Linked DNA regions of Homo sapiens: regions 2 and 3 are each linked to region 1. The links come from fine-mapping of genetic effects on gene expression. A gene starts in region 1. Each other region holds a variant in brackets. All regions are shown on one strand. Distances are between the middles of the regions. Region 1 holds the start of IRAG2 (inositol 1,4,5-triphosphate receptor associated 2). Region 2 overlaps DNAI7 (dynein axonemal intermediate chain 7). Region 3 overlaps IRAG2 (inositol 1,4,5-triphosphate receptor associated 2).

Evidence for each region. PIP is the estimated chance that this variant, and not a neighbour inherited with it, causes the effect. A credible set is the group of variants that fine-mapping cannot tell apart.
Region 2: its variant is the best candidate, but not a certain one, in a credible set for the expression of IRAG2 in sun-exposed skin (GTEx, PIP 0.83).
Region 3: its variant is the best candidate, but not a certain one, in a credible set for the expression of IRAG2 in tibial nerve (GTEx, PIP 0.79).

What each region holds. Positions count from the first base shown.
Region 1 is chr12:25,049,198-25,056,424 of GRCh38, reverse strand. IRAG2 (inositol 1,4,5-triphosphate receptor associated 2) reads right to left here and starts at 3,719. Exons shown (of 22, transcript NM_001366544.2): 1 at 3,469-3,719. RefSeq lists enhancers at 3,845-4,214, 4,255-4,364.
Region 2 is chr12:25,141,711-25,146,710 of GRCh38, reverse strand. DNAI7 (dynein axonemal intermediate chain 7) reads left to right here. Exons shown (of 16, transcript NM_018272.5): 9 at 2,034-2,346. Among named protein-coding and RNA genes, the nearest start is that of DNAI7, 51 kb to the left of the region's middle. The variant C/T (reference allele first, on the strand shown) is at 2,792.
Region 3 is chr12:25,084,176-25,091,402 of GRCh38, reverse strand. It overlaps IRAG2 (inositol 1,4,5-triphosphate receptor associated 2), which reads right to left. Exons shown (of 22, transcript NM_001366544.2): 11 at 3,246-3,303; 12 at 1,726-1,789; 13 at 1,613-1,640; 14 at 1,206-1,346. Among named protein-coding and RNA genes, the nearest start is that of IRAG2, 35 kb to the right of the region's middle. The variant C/T (reference allele first, on the strand shown) is at 3,797.

The sequences.
Region 1 (7,227 bases):
ATACTTCCCAGATTACTTCTCCATATCTGCATTTTTCATTTGGGAAAACTTGGGTCCCTATCCTATCAGAGTTGTTGAGCAAGCTGTATTTGGCTTTGGTTTTCTCCTTGGCCGTCACCCCAAAACCTTCTATCTTTAAGTATCTCAATCACCTGGATCCCTTCACCCGCCTTCTTTGGCTCATTTCCCTCCTGTTTACTGACTGCTTAGGACACGGCTTTCATCTTGAATCCATGCTCCAAGCCCTAAGGGTTTTACCTCTGCCATACCTCCCGCCCTCCATGCTAAGAATAGCAAGCTAAAAGAGTGTTTGCAGTGATATTATCTAGGTGAAAGTCTCCTCTAAACTAGGAAGTTCATGTGCAGATACTACGTTCAAATAAGAAATTATGCTATATCAGAGTTTCCCAGGATCTCTTTTCAAGGAAAAATTTGTGATTCTTAAAGGTAATTCTCTCATTGTCTATGAGAAGACTGACTCCATGAAGATTTCACGTCAGATGGGAACAAGAGATGGTGAATAGTAAGGGGGTGATAGTTTTGGATTGTATCAATTAGTCCATGATTTCTGTACATAAGATTCACCCTAATATGTTATATACACATCCTATAAGCTTTTAAAAATTTCCTTTTTAGATGAGTTCATGTCCTTTGTAGCGACATGGATGAAGCTGGAAACCATCATTCTGAGCAAACTATCGCAAGGACAGAAAACCAAACTCTGCATATTCTCACTCACAGGTGGGAATTGAACAATGAGAACACTTGGACACAGGACGGGGAACATCACACACTGGGGCCTGTCATGGGGTGGGGATAGGAGAGGTGTAGCATTAGGAGAAATACCTAATGTAAATGACGAGTTAATGGGTGCAGCACACCAACATGGTACATGTATACATATATAACAAACCTGCACGTTGTACACATGTACCCTAGAACATAAGTATAATAAAAAAAATTTCCTTTTTAAAGCAAACACTAATTATAATCCAGTCATGTGTCTATTAACAAGATACTTGGATATAAACAAAGTTTAGATGCAGAAGAAATAAAATATATAAGTAACCATTCAAGCAATTGAACAGTTTTCATGGCACATTTCTTGAAGAATATCATGCACATGAATTGCCTCATAAATCAGCCCAGTCCTGAAGGCAATTGAAAACTTGAACAATATCATTTATTCAAGATAAAGTTCAGGATTTCTGATCAAACATCACATATAAATTTCCAGTTGTAGTGTGAACATTATGCACATTGATCTGAACATTTGGACAAACCAGCTGCATCCCCACACAATGTGCTGATGCAACTTAGATGGATCAGAAAACAATTGTCTGAAATACTTTGTGAATTTATTAAACTAGCCAGAGAGTTTCAGAAAAGCTAAATAGATATAAATATGTTTTGTTTTCTGACTCAGAATCAGATGTCTGACTCAGAAATCAAACAGCATGGGGTGGCAGTGGTCATGGCGGGATGTGCGTGGACGTGTTTGTGTGATAACTGCAGTCATTGACATTTGTTTGCAGTCTATCTGGAACATCTGCTATATAGAACATTTTGAAAATACGTGCTATCTAAATTTCCCTCTTCTCTCAAAGATTGAATTTAAAGGGCATTGTTAGAAAGATCGTAAGTACATGGTCATATAAGCAAAATCCTGATTTGTATGGGTTTTTTGGGCAGCAAAAGATACAAGTAACAAGTAAGGGATTTCATAAATCTGGACAGGTTATGCATAACTCAAGACAGAAAGGAAGTGTCCACTCTACGTTATCCAGGCAGAAAAAAATACACGTATCAACCCAGGGCAGCTTTCATATTCTGCTTTTAAGTGTATTTGAATCTATTGGGCCGTGAAGATAAACTGGGAAGACAACAATAGCAAGTTCATAATATCAAGAACGTGCACTTTGGGGTAAGTTATTAAAGTTGACTCTTCTAAGAAAATACTGCAAGAAAATCACAGTGAGGAAGGGGAACAAATTCTTAGTAGTTTATAAAACTCAGGTATAATATTGATTTAATCAAAAGGCAAAACTGGAGCAAAAGAATAGTCCTGGGCACAGTGTCTAAAGCAGACACACCTTAAACCAACTTTGGAATGCCTTATGATTCATGTCTCAACATGAACAGTTCTAATCACAAGGGAACCTTCTCCAATGCCCTCTGAGCAGTAGTAAAATAACACACAGACTGTGTAATTTAAAGACTGCCTTACTAGCTTAACAGAGTGAATCAGAATATTGAAAACTGGCAAATTCAATAAAGGTTTAAAAATTATGACAATAATATGTTGAATAACCACTGCTATTTTAATGTTTTATTTATTTATTTGTTTGTAATTTTTGTAGAGACAGGGTTTCACCATGTTGTCCAGGCTGGTCTCAAACTCCTGGGCTCAAGCAATCTGCCCACCTCGGCCTCCCAAAATGCTGGGATTACAGGGGTGAGCCACTGTGTCCGGCAAACCATTGCTATTTTAAAACTAGACTATTTCTTAAACTCCTAAATAGCTTTCTCAGATAATAGTAGAAAGGGTACAATAAATCCAAAACAAACACAAGTCTGAAATTTTTCATCTCTAGCCTACCTTAAGCTTATATATTAAATATATAATTATTTATAATTATATAACAATTAACAAATAAACAATGTTTATTTCTCAAACCAAGTAACTTTCTATAAAAAGAATATTTATACTGCTAGAACAAGAAACTGGCTGAACAAAAGCAATTGTCTGATAAATGGCTAAATAAGTAAGGTTTATTTTTACCATATTAGGTTTCTAGAATGAAACAATTTTATAGCTAATCTGACATCTGTAATGTGACAACTGTCTTCTCACATAAATCTCTGGTAACTGTTTATATACTTTTGGGTAATACAGAAAAATGACAAATATTCCAATTTTTAAAATGCAAAATATGTATGTAGATGTATGTAGAGAATGCATTAAAACTTTAAAAGAATTTTCACACATTTGATATTTTGATATACACTGAATTCATAATTATTTTGCCCAACCCCCTAAAATTTCCAAAGAAAATAGACGAGCAAGGCCTTTTCTACCATATGAGAGGAAAAAAACTAGCTAATAAAATCAGAGTATAATATATAACAACTTGCAAGTTCAAATATACCATGCATACTAGATTTTTCTCCTTGTTTACTTTTAGAAATTTTGAGAAGTTTTAATTAATTTTAAAAGAAAAAAACAGCCACAGACAAAACCAGCTTATAATAAAAAGGCAAAAAGGGAAGTTAATGGTTAAACCCATGCATGCACCTAGCCACTCAGCAAACCTCTCTGAAAGCCCCACAATATTGCCTTCTCAAACCATTTCATTGTCATAAACTCAGGAATAATATCCTAGCTGTAATCTAGAAAAATGTCTGTAGTCCTATGCCCCGCCTGAGGGTGGACAAAAACTGGGTCATAAATGAATATTTGCTACTCACTCTTCAGTTTCCTTGTCTTCTGCTGAAGTGCCTGGCAAGTGTTCGATAATTCAGTATTTATAGTTTGAAGGTTCCGTTGTTCCGAAATTGCTTCCTCTAATTTATGCAGTAAAGACGTAGCTTTTTCACTGGCAGTGTGGGCTTCTCGATCTCGATCCTTACCCTGGACATGGATAGTTAGTGCTGGATTGTAGCAGTGTGGCCAGGAAAGAAAGCAATGGAGTGCTCACTCTTATGATGCAGGCAAAACTGAAAATGTGTTTTTCTTCTCAGGGAAGTGATAAGCCTCTCCTGAACTTCTGCAATTCTGTGTTTGCATGGGCTTGGTATGCCTGAGCTATTTCTACAGCGGTTAAAGTCCTGATATGTCAAGTTGCCTCTTTCTGCAGAGTCGCCTCTTTCATCAGCAGGCTGTTGATACCGCCTCTCTTACAACTCCCCCTTTACTTCCTCTGCTCACTGTTAGTCGCTAGGGACTGAACTTGCAGTTCCTCTTTGCTTTTTTTTTTTGTTTGTTGTTGTTGTTCCTCCTCCATTTTTATTTCATGGTTTGCAGGGCATCTGAGGAGATGTCCCCTGAATCTAATGTAGCCATGAGCCACCCTACCTGCTCCTCCACATCCTCCAGCCGTTGGCTGGTTTCTTGGAGCCTCTTCCTAAGGATGCCTTCCTGGTTGACAGCATCTTCCTGTAGTTGTTTAATGGCTTCTAGTTGTTTCTGACTGGAGTTAAAAAAAAAAAAAAAAAAAAAAGTCCAAACCGCAAGCTGTCAGTGACATTTCAACTAAGAGTCACCCTGTGAAATTATGACAAACTCAAACTTAACACCACTTCCTTAGAGATCAGAGGAAAAAGTGAAAGTATTTACATATAAATGCTTCACAAATATAAAATCTTAAGCAAAGCTTATTGGTCGCTTAGCCTGACACCCTCACTTTACAGATAAGGACTTCTAGTTTCATCTTTTACACTGGTGTGTTCAGTTCCCACCAGCTGCATTCATAGCACTTAGCATCAGTTGCCAGTTGCCAGTTACTCAGAAGATGGCTCTACAATGAGGTCAGGGTGACAGGTGCAACATTTACACATCACAGCTAGCTTTTACAGAAAAAGAAAGGAATGGGGTAAAGGTAGGGGGAGGGAAAAGAAAAGGAAAGAGAGCTTTGTTTCATGACCTTAGCCTTTCTCCTTAAGGGTTGTCAATCATAGTATAAACACGTGCCACGAGCACAGGAAGGACCGCCCCCAGGCACAGATGAAAGCTGGCGGTTGATATTTCTACTTTAGTCCTCTTTTTGCTGAAGCTTTTCTCCCCATCACCCTTCCCCACCACAGATCTCATGGTGCCATTACGTTACACCTCATTTGGATCCAATTCTAATCTCTAAAACATGTAAAAATGCACTTACTCTCTGTTAGCAGATGAGATTATTTAATGTGTGTTACATGCCAGTACCTCAATGATTATCTGGAAACAATCTGACTTGAATATGGACCTTAACTCAAAGTGGTGATAAATGTCGGGAGTTGCAAAACAGCAAGGAAGACATTGTCAGCCGTAGGCCTTGTGCATGCCTCTCAAACGTTAACATTTAGTCAGAATGCCACTGCACACTGGCACAAATCCAGCCCTGGTTACACGAAGGACCACATGAGAGGCAAGAATGGTCTCACAGAATGCTTACCATACTGGTAAACAAGCAAACAAAATCCTAAGCAAAAATAAAAACTGCCTACATCACCACACTTTCCACTGAGCGTCCTTCAATAGCTTATCGTTGTCTCTCTCACTCTCTTTTTCTCTCTTTTTCTTTAACTGTGGCAGGAACATTTAACAGGAGATTTACCCACTTAACAAATTTTTAAGTGTACAATACAGTATTATTAACTACAGGCATAATGTTGTACAGCAGATCTCTAGAACATCTTCATCTTGCATAACTGAAACTTTATACCTATTGAGTAGCAACTCCTCATTTCCCCTCCCCTAGCTCCTGGCAACCACTATTCTCTCTCTTTCTATTAGTTTAACTATTTTAGATACCTCAGAGAAGTGGGATCGTGCAGTATTTGTTGTTCTGTGACTCACTTATTTTACTTGGGATAGTGTCCTCCAGGTTTATCTATGTTGTCATATGTGGCAGAATTTCCTTCTTTTTAAAGGTTGGATAATATTCCCTTGTATTTATATACCAAATTTTCTTTATCCAATCATCCGTGGACATTCAGGTTGTTTCCAAATCTTGGCTATTGAGAATAATGCCGCAGTGAATATGGGAATGCAAATAGCTCTTCCAGGTGCTGATTTTAATTATTTTGGATAAATACCCAGAAGTGGGGTTCCTAGATCAGATGGTAGTTTAATTTTTAATATTTTGAGAAAACTCTGTAACTGTTTTTTTTTGTTTGTTTGTTTGTTTGTTTTTTTTGAGACGGAGTCTCGCTCTGTCTCCAGGCTGGAGTGCACTGGCGCGATCTCAGCTCACTGCAACCTTTGGCTCCCGGGTTGAAGCGATTCCCCTGCCTCAGCCTCCCGGGTAGCTGGGACTACAGGCACGCACCACCATGCCCGGCTAATTTTTTGTATTTTAGTAGAGACGGGGTTTCACCATGTTGGCCAGGATGGTCTCGATTTCCTGACCTCGAGATCCGCCTGTCTCGGCCTCCGAAAGTGCTGGGATTACAGGCATGAGCCACCGCACCCGGCCCTCCATAACATTTTCTATAGTGCCTGCACCACTTTCCATTCCCCCAACTGTGCACTAGGACTCCAATATCTCTACATCCTCACCAACACTTTTTTTTATTTGTTTTTTGTTTTTGTTTTTTTGAGACGGAGTCTCACTCTGTCACCCAGGCTGGATGGAGTGCAGTGGCGCAATCTCGGCTCACTGCAAGCTCCACCTCCCAAGCTAACGCCATTCTCCTGCCTCGGCCTCCCGAGTAGCTTTTTTTTTTTTTTTTTTTTTTTTTTGAGACACAGTTTCGCTGTGTTGCCCAGGTTGGAGTGCAGTGGCACAATCTTGGCTCACTGCAAGCTCCGCCTCCCGGGTTCCCACCATTCTCCTGCCTCAGCCTCCCGGGTAGCTAGGACTACAGGCGCCTGCCACTATGCCTGGCTAATTTTTTTGTATTTTTAGTAGAGACAGGGTTTCACCTTGTTAGCCAGGATGGTCTCGATCTCCTGACCTCGTGATCCGCCTCAGCCTCCCAAAGTGCTGGGATTACAGGCGTGAGCCACCGCATCCGGCCGTCTTTTAAAATAATAGCCATCCTAACAGGTATGATACAATATCTAATTATAGTCTTAACTTGCATTTTCCTAATGATTAGTTATGTTGAGTATGTTTGTACACCTGTTTGACCATTTATCGTCTTCTTTTGAGAAATGCCTATTCAAGTCTTTTGTCTATTTTTAAATCTAGTTATTTGTGTTTTTTTATTGTTGTTCTGGAGTTGTAGGGGTTTCTTATATTTTCTAAATATTAACCCCATAAGTGAAGGACCTCTTCAAGGAGAACTACAAACCACTGCTTAAGGAAATCAGAGAGGACACAAACAAATGGAAAAACATTCCATGCTCATGGATAGGAAGAATCAATATCATGAAAATAGCCATACTGCCCAAAGTAATTTATAGATTCAATGCTATTCCCATTAAACTGCCATTGGCATTCTTCACAGAATTAGAATAAACTATTTAAAAATTCATATGGAATCAAAAAAGAACCCAAATAGCCAAGACAATCCTAAGAAAAG
Region 2 (5,000 bases), 91 kb before region 1:
TACAAATATACACTCATTAAATACCAGGTCTTCCTCTTCTCTTTACCCACTTAACTCCTCTGCCCTCCAAAAAAGTAGAAGTGGTAGGTGCTTTCTTTTTCTTTTTTTTTTGAGACACAGTCTTGCTCTGTCGTCCAGGCTGGAGTGCAGTGGTGTGATCTCGGCTCACTACAGCCTTTGCCTCCTAGGTTCAAGCGATTCTTTGTGCCTCAGCCTCCTGAGTAGCTGGGATTACAGGTGCACGCCACCACACCTGGCTAATTTTTTTGTATTTTTAGTAGAGACGGGGTTTCACCATGTTGGTCAGGTTAGTTTCAAACTCCTGACCTCAAGTGATCAGCCTGCCTCGGCCTTCCAAAGTGCTGGGATTACAGGCGTGAGCCACTGCGCCCAGCTAATAGGTACTTTCTATATGGCAATCTGGATTTTTTTTTTTTAATGTATCTTTGTGACTTAAAAATAATAGGTTTTCTTTTCTTTTTTTTTTTGAGACAGAGTTTGGCTCTTGTTGCCCAGGCTGGAGTGCAAGGGCGCAATCTCGGCTCACTGCAACCTCTGCCTCCTGTGTTCAAGCGATTCTCCTGCCTCAGCCTCCTGAGTAGCTGGGATTACAGGCATGTGCCACCATGCTTGGCTAATTTTGTATTTTTAGTAGAGACGTGGTTTCTCCATGTTAGTCAGGCTGGTCTCAAACTCCCGACCTCAGGTGATCCGCACATCTCGGCCTCCCAAAGTGCTGGGATTACAGGCGTGAGCCACTGCGCCCGGCAAACATAATAGGTTTTCATATGTGTATTTCTTGGACATTTTAGTGCTATTTCCCCAATAGTTTTCAACAAAGAAACATCTTTCTGAGGAATGACAGTGACGATGGCAAATTCATGAGTGCTTGGTTGCTGCTTGATCTTTAAACATTTTAAGTTACTTGCATTAGTATAGCAGTGAGTTTTAGAGAAAAATTACCAGAATAAAAATTAGGAGGCCTAGGTTCTGGTCCTACCTCTGAAAAGACTAGCTATGTGACATTTAAAAAAAACTAGACTTTATTTTTGATAGTTAGTAAAAGGGAAGAAAAAAATATTTCCTAAGTTCCTTCCATTTGCTATGAAAAACAAAAAAACCAACTTTTTGGTTTACATCTAATCAGAGACAATATAGTAACCTTTCTCATTGTAAAATATGTCAAGTACAGAAAAGTTAAGGAAATAACTCTTTATAGTTTTAAAAGAATAAAAATAAAATGAATAGCTCTGTACTCACTACCCAGGTTTAAGAAGAGAATTAGGTGGTGTCTTTTACGAGATAAGGAATAGTGCAGGCAGAACAAGTTTCACTTTGATGGTGATTGGGGTGGGGGTTGTAAGGATGATGAGTTCTGTGCTCAACTGGCTGAGTTTGAAGTACTTACAAGATATCAAAGTGCAACTGGCTGAAGGCACTGAGAGAAATCTGAGGTGTAGTATATTTTGAGGAGTCATCAACATATAGACCAATGGTTCTTCACTTTTTGGGAGTCATAGATTCTTCCGAATGTCAAGTAATTACAGATGCTTGCACTTGTGGAAGGGCATTTTTAGACCGCTTAAAGTCCATTCAGAGATGCATCATACTCCTACCCAAACCTAGGAAAAATAAAGCTCATATTACAAACCTCTGATAGTATAGATAGTAATTCAGGCCACAGAAGTAAAAATATCCAGAGAGTGTATGTTGAGGGAGAGGAGAAAAAGGGCTTAGGATGGAGCACTGAGTAATATCAACATTGAAGGGATGGTTAGGAAGAAGGCCATATAGAGGAGACAGAAGGAACTTCCAGAGATGGAGAAGACTGTGGGGTTATGGATCCCAATAAACTGTTTTGAGAAGGATAGCATCAGCAACTGGGTCCAAATGCTGCAAAGAAAGCACATATGATCAGAGTCAAAATTGGAGCAAAATTAAAGTGAAGAGAAATACTGCTTAGGTATAAATTTGACACAGATCTAGAGTTTCCTAGGGTCTCATCTTTTTTTGTTGTAATTAATTATTAACAGGCACAGAAGTGTTAGATTCTCTGAAACACAAATTGGATTTGAGATTCCAAGGATATTAGCAACAAGTGACATTGCTGTACGACTCCTGCATACCCACTATGATCATGTTTCTGCACTGCACCCTGTTTCAACACCATCAAAAGAATACACTTCTGCAGTAACTGAGCTTGTCAAAGATGATGTTAAGAATGTAGAAAAAGCAATCAGCAAGGAGGTCGAAGAAGAGTCCAAACAACAAGAAAGAGGGTCTCACTTAATTCAGGAGGAAGAAATAAAAGTTGAGGAGGAACAAGGTGATATTGAAGTGAAAATGGTAGGACACATTTAAATATACACATTTTTTTATTCATGCAGCATGCGTTATTAGATTCCCTTAAAGTGTTCTCAAGATTTTTCCTAAACAACTGGAAATTGTCTGGGAGCCACTTTCTTGCCAGTGCCTCAATTTTTAATATGTATCTTTTTCTTGCCTTCCATTAATAGTCAATTAATAGTTGAGCCACTAGCTTCAACATCCTAAAGTTCAGCACAGGAATTGCTTATTTTTATATTAGGTGCACAACCGGGCAGCTTTGATGCCATTTAATTTTTGTATATTTATTATATATTTCAAATTCAAGGGAACTTGCCATTAAATGGAAACTTACAGTAAATAATCTTATATTACCCTGTTACTTCCTCAGTTTTTGGTTTTGTAAGAAATAATTTTATAAAGTAAAAATTAATTTTCTTAAAATATTACACTCTTCTCTGAAAAT[C/T]TGACATCTTTAGAGATAGCTTTTGACCAATTTAATAATCATATTCCTTTAGTTAGCTTCTTCTCTTTTTTCTGTTGGCAAGATTGTCAAGCTACTTATTTATGTTAGAAAAAATGTCTCTTAAGAATTTAGTAATACTTTCTCAGAGCTAAGCAGATTCTTTGTTTAATAGCCTATTTGCATGTTATGAGGGACCAAAATATCTCAAGTTTTCTGACAAGTGCTTAAGACATGAAATGTATTGGTTTATTGATTTATTTTCTTTAAACACAGGAAAGGATTAAGGATTAGATTGAATACAAATTTAAAATCAGAATAGGAATTATTAGATACTCTAAGAACACGTGATTTATTAAGAATTCAATTTAAAATATTACACTGGTATCAAAAATTATAGGCCGGGCGTGGTGGCTCACGCCTGTAATCCCAGCACTTTGAGGTCAGGAGTTCGAGACCAGCCTGGCCAACATGGTGAAACCCTGTCTCTGCTAAAAATACAGAAAATTAGCCGGGCGTGGTGGTGTATACCTGTAATCCCAGCTACTTGGGAGGCTGAGACAAGATAATTGCTTCAACCCAGGAGGCGGATGTTGCAGTGAGCCGAGATCATGCCATTGCACTTCAGCCTGGGTGACAGAGTGAGACTTTGTCTCAAAAAAAAAAAAAAAAAAAATTATGAAGACTCTGTAGCAATGTAGAAAAATGGATATGACATAATGCTAAGTATAAAAAAATTGTATTTAGACTCTAATGACAAGCACGTGAAAATTTTAAAGGCATAAGGAAATGAGAACCCAGAAATCTGTGCATAGCTCATATTTTAGAGAGGAGGGAAATGATTTATTCTTCTTTAAAAATTTGTCATTTTTGTTTAAATGTTTTTTGGGCAATAAGATAGTTTTTAAAATAAAAATTTCATGTGAACTCTCAGATAGTTTAGAAGCTTTACTAGAGACAATAGTATTTCCAGTTCTCTTCCCTTTCCTGGAATATGGAAGGATTATACTCCTTTCCATGTTGCAGCTAGGCATGACCATGTGACTTAGCTAATAAGATGTGATTAGACATGACAAACTCATTTCCAAGGGGGAAAAAAATAGAATGGGTAAATAGGTCTTGGACTTAACATTGTTTCAATATGGAGTAAAATACAAAATTAAACCCCATTAACCTAAAATAAAGTTAGGGAGGATTTGTGATTTTATATTCCTGAAAACAAAGAACCTATCAGTATTTTACATAAGAATTTCACATTATTGATTTTAAAATTGTGAAATAATAATTTGGAACCATAAAATTTGAACTATTACTTGCATTTACATGGCTAAAGCATTTTTTTCTTATGCATCTATCTCAAAGTGGCCTCATGTAGTAATAATTAATTATAGTTCTGTTAATTTTGGCAGTAGTTTTGTTTTTTTTTTATTTCAAAAGGTTTTTGGGGAACAGGTGGCATTTGGTTACATGGATAAGTTCTTTAGTGGTGATTTCTAAGATTTTGGTGCACCCATTACCCGAGCAGTGGACACTACCCATTGTGTAGTCTTTTATCCCTCATCCCCCTCCCACCCTTCCCTTGAGTCCCCAAAGTCCATTGTATCATTCTTATGCATTTGCATCCTCATAGCTTAGCTCCCACTTATAAGTGAGAATATGTGATGTTTGGTTTTCTATTCCTGGGTTACTTCACTTACAATAATGGTCTCCAGTTCCATCCAGGTTGCTGCAAATGCCATTATTTCATTCTCTTTTATGGCTGAGTGGTATTCCATGGTACACATATACCTCATTTTCTTTATCCACTTGTTGATTGCTGGGCATTTGGGCTGGTTCCATGTTTTTGCAATTGCAAATTGTCCTGCTATAAACATGCATGTGCAAGTGTCCTTTTCATATGACTTATTTTCCTCTGGGCAGATACCCAGTACTGGGATTGCTGGATCAAATGGTAGATCTACCTTTAGTTTTTTCAGGAATGTGTTAGTTTACATTCCCACCATCAGTGTAAAAGTGTTCTCTTTTCACCCCATCCACTCAAACATCTATTATTTTTTGATTTTTAAATTATGGCCTTTTTTTTTTCTTTTTTTGAGACAGAGTCTCACTCTGTCACTCAGGCTGGAGAGCAGTGGCATGATCTCAGCTCACTGCAACCTCCACCTCCCAGGTTCAAGCAATTCTCTTGCCTGAGACTCCTGAGTAGCTGGGA
Region 3 (7,227 bases), 35 kb before region 1:
AAGCCTTGAAGACATTATGCTAAGTGAAATAAGCCAGTTACAAAAGACAAGTACTGTATGAATCCACTTATGCAAAGTCCCTAAAGTTGTCAAATTCATAGAGTCAGTAGGATAATGGTTACCAGGGGATGGGGTAAGGAGGAAAAGGGAAATTAACAGGTACAGAGTTTCAAGATCTGTTTTGCAACAATGTAAATAAACTTACATTGAACTGTGCACTTGAAGATGTTCAAGATGATAAATTTTATGTTACATATTTTATCACGGTAAAAAATAACGTGATTCTTTTCCATGGTTTCTCAATTTTAATGTCCTTCATCCAAAACTAAGCCTACTAATTTTCCAGCTCATCTCTAAATGTATGGTAACTTCACCATATGGAAGGATAATAGTAGTTGTTACACTCCTCTGCACCCCCATTCTTCTCTCAGTACCCTACAGCAGGCTTGCCCATCATCTGCAAGACTGAATCAGTTACCATTCTCTTTCCTCAGTTAATCATAAATGGAAATAGACTCGATTCTCTTCTTTGAAGCTTAAAATTGATATTTCCTATTGCTCAGTTTTCTGTATGATTCCTTTTCTGCCTGAAATTTGAAAATCCAGAGAAAAGGCAGATGACTCATGCAACCTACTTTAAAAAGACATTTTTCATTTTATAGCTGATACTCTCCTATTAGTGAAACTTTTATTTCAGCCTGATCCTGCATTCTTACTTTCTATGATTCACATTTGGGTCAGGCAGAGCTTGGCACCTGGTACTGGTTTGGGTCATACAAGTAATTTCATATGTAATTATGAAAGTGTTATTGAAAATATGACCAAATGTTTTCTGTGGGTGTTTTTTGTTTTGTTTTTGAGACAGGGTCTCACTCTGTCACCCAAGCTGGTATGCAATGGTGTGATTATAGCTCCCTGCAATCTCCAACTCCTGGGCTCAAATGATCCTCCTGCCTCAGCCTCCCAAGTAGCTGGGACTACAGGCACACATCATCACACCTGGCTGATTTTTTTTTTTTTTTTGGTAGAGATGGGGTCCCACTATGTTGCCCAGGATGATCTTGAACTCCGGGCCTCAAGTGATCCTCCTGCCTTGGTCTCCCATGATCCTCCTGCCTTGGCCTCCCAAAGTGCAGGGATTATAGGTGTGAGCCACTGTGCCTGGCTAGACCAAATGTTTATATCCCAAATGTTCTGATTCTCACCTCTAATAGTTTTAAACAGTTAGTGATTTCTTTCTTCAAATTTTCTTCTGCCAAGTCACGGGACCTCTCTTCAAGCTTCACTCTCTTCTCCAAGGTAAACCAGTCACACTTAAATCCCAAAGATAATCTGAGAAATTCTGCCTGTTGTCAAAATAATGTGAGGGTGAGGAAGAGGAGAGAAAACCGGATGTGGTCAGATGTTTCAGTTTAATACTGTTTTATACTGAGGCATTTCTTTCTCCCCCCAGCAACATAATGCTGACATGCACAGGGTTCACCTGCACTGAGTCACAGCCAAGCCAAACAGACACCGAGCATATGAGAGCTTGTGCCAAAACATGAAGTGACTGTAGCAGGTGAGTCTGGAACACTTTTTTAAAAGGAAAAAAAATTTGCTTTAAACTCACCTCCACCTCCTTCTCATTAGCAGAAGTGCTGTAGGATAAGACAAAAAACATATTTAAACATAATCCAACAGAAAAATAAAACATGTTAACATGCTACATGAAGAAGCACTTACTTCTCACTTTGTCTAAGGTTAACCGATTTCACAGTGGTTACAGGAAGAGGGGAAACCACAGAGTCTATTAAAATATAATAAAATATTATTTGGTTAAAAAGGCTTGACCTGTAAAAGCACATTTGATCTAATGTTATATCTCCACTAAACAAAAGTATTTCATTTAAATATGTCTGAGATGATCGCCAGCTAATAATGTATGCACTTAAATTATAATGTTATGCTAAGCTATTGGGATCACAATGCCATTACAATCATTTGTTTATACCTCAGCATGTGAATAGTCTTTCATACTTAAAGATGTCTCAGAATCAAGCAACAGCCCAATTTGTTCTCTTTGCATTTGCATGTTTGCTATACTTGATCCCATGGCTAAAAGCCTAAACCTCCTACTGGTATCCTGGTTCTTCTTTGGATCAAGGCTTTATTAGCAGTAGCAGGAACAGTAGTAGTAATAATAATAGTAGTAATAATAATACTGGTAACAATAACAGTGACAATAAACATGGCATCAACCATGGCTTTATTATATTGCCAATCACAGAGCAAAGCATTTTACACATATGATTTTATGACAACTTTACCAAGGACTATGTATTAGTTATTAAGAGCATTGGATTTAAAGTCAAACAAACTTGGTTTAAGTCTGAGCTTTGTTTGAATCTTACAGTTATGTGAGCTTGAACAAGTCACAAAGTCATTAAGCCATCTAAGATAAGATTGATAAGATAAAGATATCTTATCATCTAAGATAAGATTGATTTTTTTATAATAGTAACTAACTTTTATGAGAACTTTGGTGCCACTTTTCTAAGTGCTTCATACATATTAATTTATTCAATCCTCACAGCAAACCTTCTGTTGTAGATACTTTTATTGTCCACATTTTATAGGCTAGGCAACTGAATCACAATTTACCACCTCACATAGTATTTGGAGGACTAAATAAAACTATGCACATGAAATTAGCCTAGTTCTCAGCATAGAATATATTCTCAATTAAGTGTACTTTTCTTCTTTTCATTTTCCTCTTGCAAATGAGAAAATTGAGACTTAAGGTTAAGTAACTTTCCAAGATCAATAGCTAGTCAGAGATTGATCCCATGTAGAGTCTCTATGACTCCAAAGCCTGAACTCTATCCACTATTCCATCCCAATGGAGGTAGGCTAAGGGGAAAAGCATATTAGCACTTATTCTGTAAATAGGGGCTTTACTTTTAGATGGGATACTAAAAAAGAACTAACAGTAGAGCATAGCATTTGCTACCAACATTCGCTTGGTTCTTAGTTCACAATAGAGCACCAGTTATTACAGGTTTTCTGGGATCGCACAGTCAACACAATGCAAATGTGGCTTTTTGAAAATGACACAAATGGAATCAATAATCGGTCCTATTGACTGACCTTATCCAGAGATGCAGAATTTGTAAGTGACATAGCTTTATTCAGACAGATTTCACCCACAAAAATATCAGCAGAGAACAAAAGTTCACATGGGGATTGAAAGAAACATTCCTTACCTCCTGAAGCATGTTCTTTTTTATGTTCTTCTATTGTTTCTGGTTCCTCTTTGGCTTCCTAAAATCATAAGATTTTACCACTGTACATAGAGTGGAAATACTTCATAACCAGTCATTTTCCTACTTCCTGTCCTCTCCTAAGCCTACTCTGACAAAAACACTCTATAACAGCAGTCCCCAACCTTTTTGGTACCAGGGACCAGTTTCCTGGAAGACAGTTTTTCCACGGGGGTGAGGTGAGGGGGAAACAGTTTCTGAAGGAACCTGTTCCACCTCAGATCATCAGGCGTTATTCTCCTAAGGAACATGCAATCTAGATGGCTCGCTTGCACAGTTCACAATAGGGTTCGTGGGAATCTAATGCCACCACTGATTTGACAGGAGGCAGAGGTCAGGTGGTCATGTTCCCTGGCCTGCCGCTCACCTCCTGCTGTGCGGCGCAATTCCTAACAGCCTCGAATGGGTTCTGATCCCTGGCTCAGCAGCGACTGGGGACCCCTGCTCTACAGTTTTTAATGCTGTTAAGAAGGAAATAAAATTGGCTGCAAGGG[C/T]GCTTCCAATCTAGTTGAAGCAAAAAGGGCGTAAATACATGAAAAGATGCAAACATGATGTGAATTACAACAATGCAAACTAGGATTAATTGCCAAATAAATGAGATAGATAAACAAGTGCTCTTAATAGGAAGGAAATGGCAGGGCGCTGTGGCTCACGCCTGTAATCTCAACACTTTGGGAGGCTGAGGTGGGTGGATCACCTGAGGTCAGGAGTTCAAGACCAGCCTGGCCAACATGGCAAAACCCCGTCTCTACTAAAAATACAAAAATTAGCCAGGGGTGGTGGTGCAGGCCTATAATCCAAGCTACTCTGAAGGCTGAGGCAGGAGAATCACTTGAACTGGGGAGGCAGAGGTTGCAGTGAACCGAGATCATGCCACTGCACTCCAAGCTAGGCAGCAGTGCAAGGCTCTGTCTCAACAAAAAAAAAAAAAAAAAAAAAAAAAAAAAGGAAGGAGAGTGGCACCATGACACCATGACTTGAGTAGCATGGAATTTCTGCAGACAAGAAACATGCTGAAGTTTGATGAAGAGGTAGGACTGGATAGATGAAAAGGTAAGGTGTGGGTGATATAGGGCTATCACATGGAGTTTTCTAGATAGGTTTTTGGAGAAATTGTGACAAAGATGGCTGCTAAGACAGTGTTATGTTAGGCTTTTACCGCATATAGATATGTTTTAAGGTCACATAAGGAGTTGTGTGTGGCTGCTGTTTCTAGCTCTTCCTCTCCCATTCGTGATCAATTAACTACTCTACCCCTTTACACAGCACTCCAAGAAAAGTGTTCTCACCAGCTATCAACTCCCTATTGCCAAATCCAGTGGATAATTTTCAGTCTTTATCTTACTTGACCTTACTATAGCATCTAAAATTATCTATACATCCTTTCCTCTTGAAGATTTTTTCCCCTTGATTTCCCTGTTCTGATGCCCCAGCCCCGCGTCACAGCCCGTTCTCAGTCTCCTCTGCCTTCTCTAGTAGATATTGTTAGCCAGGATTCCATTATCCTCAATGCTCCCTTCCTTCCTGCCACAGTCCTTGGGAAATCTCATCCACACACTTGGATTTTTGCTGATAATTCACAAATATATGTCAGCTTTCAAAAACCGCACAGGTGAGTTTATGAATATGGGTATGCAGCCGTATATAAAATCTCCTTACCGACTATCAATGTCTCAGATCAGCCTGAAATTTGACTTGTCTCAAACTGATCTTATTTTACCCCACAAATTCTACTCTCCTTCCTCCTTCCCTACTGTCATGTTATTCTATTCATTCGGTAGGTTAAGCCATAAGCCTGGGTATCTACCGTTTCCCATACCCGTGACATGTCATCATCCTCTGTGAATTCTACCCCTAAATATTTCTCAAATTTATCTCCTTTTCTCCACCTTCACTAAATTCATACTACCTTCATCTCATCTGAATTATTGCCATAGTATCCTAACCAGTCCCACAACTTCCAATGGCAAATTGATCCATTATTTTAAAAAGTGTCTTTATGTCTATATTTTTTTTGAGATGAGAAGGAATTTTATTCTCTCAGAAGATTCTACTATGAAAGAGTAAAGGACTTGAGTTTTCTTCTGTTCATTTTTTACTAGGAGCAACCATTTTCAGCATATGTGCTAGCCAACACTATATCCTACCTATACAGCTGGCCCTCTGTATTTGTGGGTTTGCATCTATGGATTTAACTAAAAAAAATGTAGTTAGGCCTACAATGGTTGTATCTGTACTGAACACACGCAGATTTCCTTTCTTGTCATTATAACTATTTACATAGCATTTATACTGTATTAGGTATCATAAGCAGTCTAGAGATGATTTAAAGTATATAAGAGGATGTGTTAGTGATATGGGAGGTGGGCAGGGAAGTGCTGGATAGAGAAAGGCGGGGTCCCCAGTGAGGGCTCCACCCTCAGGCCTGTGCCTGCAGACCTAAGTGAGAACAGGCACTCCTGTTTTTGTGTCTGAATGTTGTATTTTCCAAGACCACTCTGGCCTACCATGCCCCTCATCCTGTGCCAACATAAACCCGAGACCTTAGTGGGCACACAACACAAGCAGCTGAAGTGAGCACACAACACTGGCAGACCAGCAGACTGGCAGACTGACAATAGTGGAATGACATGGCAGAGAAAGAGAGAAGAGGGGGGATGTCTGGATGCCAAGGGGAGTTTAGCCTGGGGCAGTTGGAGAAGAGTATGGCCTCTGGGCAGCCTGACTCCAGGGGAATACCCCCTTCCCATTCCATACCACCTTCCCACTCCATCCCCCCTTCTGGCTCCGCATCCATCTTACTGAGAGCCACCTCCACCACTCAGTAAAACCTTGCACTCATCCTTCCAGCTCACGTGTGATCTGATTCTTTTGGGACACTGAGCGACAGCTCAGGATACAGAAAGCTGTCACACTGGCCCTCTGCCCTTGTGATAAGGCTGAGGGTCCATTGAGCTAATTAACACACAAGCTGTCTGCAGATGGCAAATCTGAAAGAGCTTTGTAACACACACTCACTTGGACTTTGGGAATCACAGACACTGACCCCTAGATGCTGCCAGGGGGCAGAGCCCAAAAGCGCTTGCCCTGGCCTCTGCAGCTGCTGGTCTGCATGTTCCCCCTAGGGGCTTGAACTATGGGGTGACTAAGCAGGTGAGACACACCACTGCTGCATGTCCTGCAAGGGGAATCAGGGAACTCTCCCGTTTCATTAGGTTATATGCAAATACTATGCAATTTTTATATAAGAGACTTGAGCATTCTCTGATTTTGGTATCTGTGGGGTTCTTGGAATCAATCGCCTCTGGATAACAAAGGAAACGAATGACATCATGTCATTGTTCCAAATCACAAATCCAATCATTTCACTATCTTTAGAATGAAATGCTGAAAAATTTTCATCTACTTTTTTGCCCCAAGTCTGTGCCATGGCCTCCTCTTAACTTGAGTTAGCTTGCATGGGTCTCTGTTTCTTGCAACCAAATGCTTAACTAGAACAATGCTTGTATATTGAGAAGAAAAAAACAATAATACACACACACACACACACACACACACACCCCTCCATGCATACAACATAGCAAGACATAAGCAAGACATAAGCAAGACCCTTGAAGAATCATGAAATTAGACCTGTAGTTACTCTTTAATGATTATTAATTCATAGAAGTGGAAATGAGTCTTCTCTCTCTCTCTCTTTTTTTTCTTTTTGAGACAGGGTCTTGCTCTGTTGCTCAGGTTGGAGTGCAGTGGCATGCTCATTGCTCACTGCAGCCTCAAACTCCTGGGCTCAAGTGATCTGTCTGCCTTGCCCTCCTATATAACTGAGACAACAGTCAAGCACCACCATACCCGGCAGATTTGTTTTTATATTTTGTAGAAACAGGGTCTCCCTATGTTATCCAGGCTGGCCTTAAACTCTTAG